Linked DNA regions of Homo sapiens. The protein of the gene in region 1 purifies or fractionates together with the protein of each later gene. This does not show direct contact. Each region holds a gene or a part of one and is shown on either strand. Other genes may lie near its edges.

What was found. The genes of interacting proteins can lie anywhere in the genome.
Region 2: the proteins of KAT6A (region 1) and ZNF512 purify together in Homo sapiens (affinity purification with mass spectrometry, with the first as the bait; one large-scale study listed by BioGRID). This does not show direct contact.

Annotation. Positions count from the first base shown.
Region 1 is NC_000008.11:42,041,988-42,045,487, forward strand, and holds part of KAT6A (histone acetyltransferase KAT6A), read right to left. Parts: intron 1,589-3,500; exon of another isoform or gene 1,517-1,588; intron 1-1,516. UniProt on the Homo sapiens protein: Histone acetyltransferase that acetylates lysine residues in histone H3 and histone H4 (in vitro). Component of the MOZ/MORF complex which has a histone H3 acetyltransferase activity. May act as a transcriptional coactivator for RUNX1 and RUNX2.
Region 2 is NC_000002.12:27,596,542-27,600,041, forward strand, and holds part of ZNF512 (zinc finger protein 512), read left to right. Parts: intron 1-1,525; coding exon 1,526-1,713; intron 1,714-3,041; coding exon 3,042-3,137; intron 3,138-3,428; coding exon 3,429-3,500. UniProt on the Homo sapiens protein: May be involved in transcriptional regulation.

The DNA.
Region 1 (3,500 bases):
ATACAGTATCAACGCAACAGAGTAATTGAAATTGAAATTTCCAAGCTTATATTGGTTAACAATTTTCTTATAAAATACCACCATTCTAACATATAAAATGTGCAACTATTCTACTATAAAGGTCATTTCCAAATAGCTAAATCAAAACTTCATCACTCTTAACTTTCAGTAACTTAAAAACATATCCCTGGCCGGGCACGGTGGCTCACGCCTATAATCCCAGCACTCTGGGAGGCCGAGGCAGGCGGATCATGAGGTCAGGAGTTCGAGACCAGCCTGGCCAACCTGGTGAAACCCCATCTCTACTAAAAATATAAAAATTAGCCGGGCATGGTGGCATGCGCCTATAATCCCAGCTTACTCGGGAGGCTGAGGCAGGAGAATCGCTTGAACCCAGGAGGTGGAGGTTGCACCACTGCACTCCAGCCTGGGCAACAAAGCAAGACTCCATCTCTCAAAAAAAAAAAAAAAATCCCCATTTTAATCAGTATCTCTACATCGAAAATTTAAATTCTAAATTCCTGTCAAAGCTCTACTTCCTCTATAATTTAAAATATAAATTCCAATAAAACAAAATAATTTGGACTCTACTAAGAGTTGACCAAATTGAGATGTAACTTAGAGTAGAAGGCAAGAGATTTATCATTGGATCTTTCTGCTCCAGGTTACCCAGCTGGGAGTAACCTGAACAATAACATTAGTTGACAATACCTACTCTTCCCTGTCCAACTGAACGCTTTAGCAAATTATAATTCTGTTCCAAAATACTATGCCACCAAATAACAATACTTTTAATGATCTGGCTGATTACCATGAAAGAGAATATTTTTCTGGGCTAGTAATACAGAACACAAACTATATATATTCAAGTAAATTATGTCAGTGTGTAAAAATGAACTCAGAAGTTTGAAATCAAGGTGAAAACTATTCTTGAAAGGAAATTGAATCTTTCCAAGACTCACTATATAAAGATAATTTTTTAAATGGACCATCACAGTCTCAAATAATTGCCTTGCCCACTAAACATATTATTATTTCTGAGTCATGATACTTAATTGTTATGAAAAAATAATAATGTAAAAAAATTACAGTTCATAAACTAAAAAAGGCTTTCAAAAAATTTATTTTGTATCTCTATTCTGTCTGCTTTAATCCCCTCACAGGACCTAAATCTTAAATCCACTGTTCATGGCAGGCATTCAAATGTTTGCTAAATAAATAATGAATAACTGAAGTAAATGGAACAAATTACCTTACAGTAATATCTATATTTCAAAAAGAAATTTACAAAGAGGAAGATGCTATTTAAGCCAGTTACACACTCTTCTCCTCACCTATAATCCCATGATTCAAGGAAAACAGTATTTCTGTCCCAAATTAAAGCACTCTGGTATAGCAATACAACTGATCCCTACCTTGCCTATCAGAAAATGTTAGTGACAACTGAAATGAAAATTAGTTAGCACAGAAATTATCTTTAAGGGAAAAAAATGGCATGTAGGTGAAACTTTTTTTTAATGGACCTCAGATATACAAAACTAGATTACTCCTAATCTTTGGTTCCTAACACATTCTTATCACTGGTCCAAAGTGAATTTTCAAATCTGTTCTGCAAAAAAAGAAAAATGGACACAATGAAGACGGGCGGGAATTTGTCCTTTAACAATTAGGAAATGTGCTATGAAGTTAACACCAAGGACATTCACGATTCTGTACTTGAGTGCAGTGATAGCCATCATACATTACTGCTCCTAAGAGGTGGTCAGTATGGCTATTACAAAGACTCTGGAGCCAGACTGCCCAAATTCAAATCCCAGCTCTGCCACCTAATATTTGTGTGACTTCAGCAAGTTACTGAAATCTCTTTTATGCCTCAGTTTCTTCACCTGTAAAATAACAGTAGCTATTTCACTGCTGGTACTGTTATGTTATTAATAACTAACTAACCTAACAGTAGCTAGTTATGTTAGAGGATTAAATGAGTTAATATATATACAGCATTAAAATAACGCCTGGCACATAGTAAATAAACACTTTAATAAATAAACTCACCATTAACTACCACACTCTAAAGTTAGCTCAAAAATTTCCCTTATAACATGGGTAAAAACTTTTTTTTTTTTTTTTTTTTGAGATGGAGTCTTGCTCTGTTGCCCAGGCTGGAGTGCAGTGGCACAATCTAGGCTCGCTACAACCTCCGCCTCCTGGGTTCAAGCGATTATCCTGCCTCAGCCTACCGAGTAGCTGGGATTACAGGCACCCACCATCATGCCGGGCTGATTTTTGTATTCTGTAGAGATGGGGTTTCACCATATTGGCCAGGCTGGTCCTGAACTCCTGACCTCAGGTGATCCACCCCCCCCTCGGCATCCCAAAGTGCTGGGATTACAGGCCTGAGCCACCAGGCCTGGCCTAAAAACTTTTAATCACAGTATCCCATGGATTCTCCTCAGTACTTATCAATGTGAAAAGAACACACTAAAGTTCCAATGTCTTCACAAAAACTCCTCTTAAACGTATTCCAACACAGTTGATCTCCCAAAAGGATCAAAACCACTCAGCTGCCGAAAATCTAACATACAGTTCCTTCCAAAGGTTAATATCACCAAAAAAAAACAAAAAGTTAGAATTGATACCAGAAAAAGTAAAGAGGAACTTGCTCGGGTTACTCCACGCAGTCTTTGAATTTCATCTTCACCTTACAGTTGGCCAGGTCAATAGAAATACCTGCATTAGCATCCCAGAGAAGACAGAACTGTTTCTGTTCCAAGCAGAGTGCCTGGCCCACAGTAGGTGCTCAATGACTATATGCTGAACCAATTAATTCCTAAAAGTGAAACTACTCCTGACCTATACACCTTCCTTTCTCCATCACTGTCAAATAAACTCTGGATAATTCTTTTCTTTTTTTGAGAACATCTAGGTTCGTAACAGCAAACTATCAATTCTGCATAGCAACTGACTGCGTAGTTCGAAGGAGAGGAAAGAAAATAGTTAAAATACAATAAAAGGAGCAGACATAATCTGTTCAAAGGAATAATCTCTCATCCTAGAGTTCACTGTATTACGATTTTTAATGTAAACTTTTCATATCTTTGGGGGAAGTCACACAGGAAATTCACTACTGAAAATAAGACTCCATTTAAAAATATAGAACAGAGCTCACCAACTCTAATTGAATAGATACTATCATGAAATTAGTTTTCCAATGAGATTAGTACATATACAAGTCTACCTGAAGAAACAAACTCTATTTTCCAACATGTCTAAATTTAGTTACTTCAGTTAACACTATAGGCAGGGTGGCTCATGCCTGTAATGCCAGCACTTTGGGAGGCCAAGGTGGGCGGATCACCTGAGGTTGGGAGTTCGAGATGAGCCTGACCAACAGGGAGAAACCCCGTCTCTACTAAAAATACAAAATTAGCCAGGCATGGTGGTCAGCATGCCTGTAATCCCAGCTACATGGGAGGCTGAGAAGGAAGAATTGCTTGAACCTG
Region 2 (3,500 bases), on another chromosome or scaffold:
CCTCATTGCAAATTCTTACTTGAGGGAAAAAGACAGAATTGGAAAACTCACCCCATTTGGGGCACTTCTCCCAACTTTGACTCCCCTGCATAATTTACTTGTTTTTGTTTGTTTTACAGAGTCCAGTGAGCAGGAGGGGTGGGCCTTAGTGGGCTTAGCTGCCCCTCCAGAGCCAGGACTTCTGTGTATTAAATTTGTGTTATTGGACCTCATGTGTGGAGAGCCGAAACTCATTCTTCCCTATTTGTAACATACTGACATAACCAGTCTCTGTTATGTTTACTCATCCCCATTTCCATCCCCTCCCTCCTAGAGGAAACTGTATAAACAAGTGTGATGTTTGCACTTAAATATTTATGACTCCTTTAAAAAATAAGCTTTAAAATAAGCTGCTTTATGTGTGGATTTGTTTTTAGCTTGCTGAACTGACATTGTGCTAGAGATACTGTTTTGTTTCTTTTTTCATTCAACAATATACTTTTTAGTTATGGTCGTGTCTCTATGTGTAGAATTAGTTTATTGCTTCTAACAGCAGCACAGTATTCCATAGTAGGCATCTATCACATTTTGCAAGGATGGTCACTGTGTTACTTCCAACTCCCTGATGTCATAAGCAAACCTCTCTATGTGTAATTCTTATTAGCTCTACATCTAAAGTGTTACCTTGAATCTGCCAATTCAAGTTAACTTTTTTCCTTTTGTTTACTCTTTCTCCCATGGGCTGTCTCCATAGAGCAGCCAGAAGGATCTTTCTGAACCATAAATCTAAAGTAGGCCTCACAGGTATTTAGCTGGAAAAGGGAGGTTCTAGGAGTCCATTGACCACTCTTGGAGAACTGCTGCTCTGCTGCATCTTGAGCCACCTAGAAGAATGTCTGATGCTTTGTAGTTACAGAGTAATGTTTTTTAGCTGTCATACTGACTGGTCTTAGATTTTGGAATCTGGATTCAGCTGTATACCAGAAATCTCTGGCCAGGTTAATTCATGCAAGATAGCATCCATCCTTTAGCTGTGGAAGCTAAGTATCATGTTGCCTAAATAAGATAGGGCATCAGGTTTTAGGGAGAATGCTGAGGCAGAAGGAAGATGAGTCAGATTAGGGCCCACAGACTATTCCTTTCCCTTAGAGATACCCTTTAGTTGCCATCCCTCTGTCAGAGAAAGAGAGAGGCTGGGACATACCAGGTTACAAATCCAGGGAGTCTTCTGAAGGGTCATAGAACACCTTTATTGCTTCACCTACTTTCTTTTATTAGATGAATCTAGGAAGGAATGTCTACTTGGGCTGCAAAGTGATCATTTATGTGTACTGCTTACTCTTATTACAATGAAGTGTGATAATAATTGTACATGTTGTGTTAGATCAACTATTGTTATTGTTAGGTGATTACAACTTACATTCTGTTTTTATAGCAGGCTTCTTAGTTTTCTGCAGAGGTAACCAACTTGGTTATAATGTAAAAGAATGTATAGAAATTTTGCTCCAGACCTTCCTTTGTGGTATATATTTTTATGTTGTATTAGTAGCAGGACCCAGTGCTCCATAAAGGATAATAGTTTCCAGTACACTATCCCTCATGATGACTCCTTAAGTGGTTCATCGTCTGCATCTTCGTGTGAACCAGTGAGTGATTTTCCAGCATCTTTCCGAAAATCTACCTACTGGATGAAGATGAGAAGAATCAAGCCAGCTGCTACTTCTCATGTCGAAGGTATCAATATCAGTGTCTTATTCTGAAGACGGGCCACTTCCTAAAGTTATAGTTTGAGATTGTTATAAATACCTCTTAAAAGTATTAAATGGCGGCTGAGCGTGGTGGCTCACGCCTGTAATCCCAGCACTTTGGGAGGTCGAGGCGGGCGGATCACAAGGTCAGGAGATCGAGACCATCCTGGCTAACATGGTGAAACCCCGTCTCTACTAAAAATACAAAAAATTAGCGGGGCCTGGTGGTGGGCGCCTGTAGTCCCAGCTACTCAGGAGGCTGAGGCAGGAGAATGGCATGAACCTGGGAGGCAGAGGTTGCACTGAGCAGAGATCGCACCATTGCACTGTAGCCTGGGCGAAAGAGCGAGACTCCGTCTCAAAAAAAAAAAAAAAAGAGTATGAAATGCCACATATTTGTTTCTCATTAGTGATTTAAAAAAATTTAAGGTGTTAGGCAATTGCATCCTGTCCCATTAGCTTCATGAACTGCTATGTGATAGAGTGAAATTCTGCTAATCTTACTCCTCTAGATTATATTTAGCATTTGATTTTCCTCTTTGTAGTATTTGAATTCCCCTTTTCTTCTTCTTTTTTTTTTGAGACGGAGTTTCACTCTTCTTGCCCAGACTAGAGTGCAATGACTCGAGCTCAGGCTCACCGCACCCTCCTTCTCCTGGGTTCAAGCGATTCTCCTGCCTCAGCTTGTAATGCCAGCTGAGTAGCTGGGATTACAGGCATGTGCCACCACACCTGGCTAATTTTGTATTTTTAGCAGAGACGGGGTTTCTCCATGTTGGTCAGGCTGGTCTTGAACTCCTGACCTCAGGTAATCCGCCCACTTTGGCCAAAGTCTGTAATCTCAAAGTGCTGGGATTACAGATGTGAGTCACCATGGCTGGCCCCCCTTTTCTTCTAGTGTGATCCTCTGTTGATGATTTAGGGGCTGGTGTAAGGATTATTCAGGGGAGAATATTCTGGATCGTCACAATCTCAAGGGTCCTTGGTGGCTAGCCCTCTATCTTGAGCAATTCTTATCCTCTTGTTAGCCTCAAGTCAAGATTAAGCAAAACACATTGCTTGAATGCCCTTATTATTCATAAGGAACAATGGATGATTTGGAATAGATAACAATATAAAAAGAAAGGGAGAGTGGGTCAGTTAATGAGAAGTTACACCAACTTCTCTAAAAATGTCACAGACATTTCTCTGAGGCCTGTGTTCACTGATGATCTTTCCTTTTGATGGTCTTGTGAATGATGTTTTGAAGACAGGCCTAGATGTTCATTTACAAAGTGTGCTGAGTTTTTGTTTTGTTTTTGTATGGTACTTCAGGGTCAGGTGGAGTATCAGCCAAGGGGAAAAGGAAACCCAGGCAGGAAGAAGATGAAGACTATCGAGAATTTCCTCAGAAGAAGCATAAGCTTTATGGTAAGGCAGTAACTTTGCTACTTCTTTTTCCTTGGGTGACTGAGCTTTATTCTTTGAGGGTAAAGGAAAGAGAAGCCTTAGTTTGAGCCCTTCAGTGACCTCTGAGCCCTTTGAATTGTTTGGGAGGGAATGGCCTCCATCCTGCCTCATTATACCCTTTCATTCTGTCCTGACTTAGGCAGTCAGTCGGTTGAGGGACTGGGAAATAGGGTGTTGAAGAGGAGGAGAGGGAAGAGATTTTGGTATTAGCAAGGGTGACATGCTGGGCTTCAAGTTTCTGTCTTATGTCAGGGAGGAAGCAACGGCCTAAAACTCAGCCCAATCCCAAATCCCAGGCCCGTCGTATTCGGAAGGAACCACCAG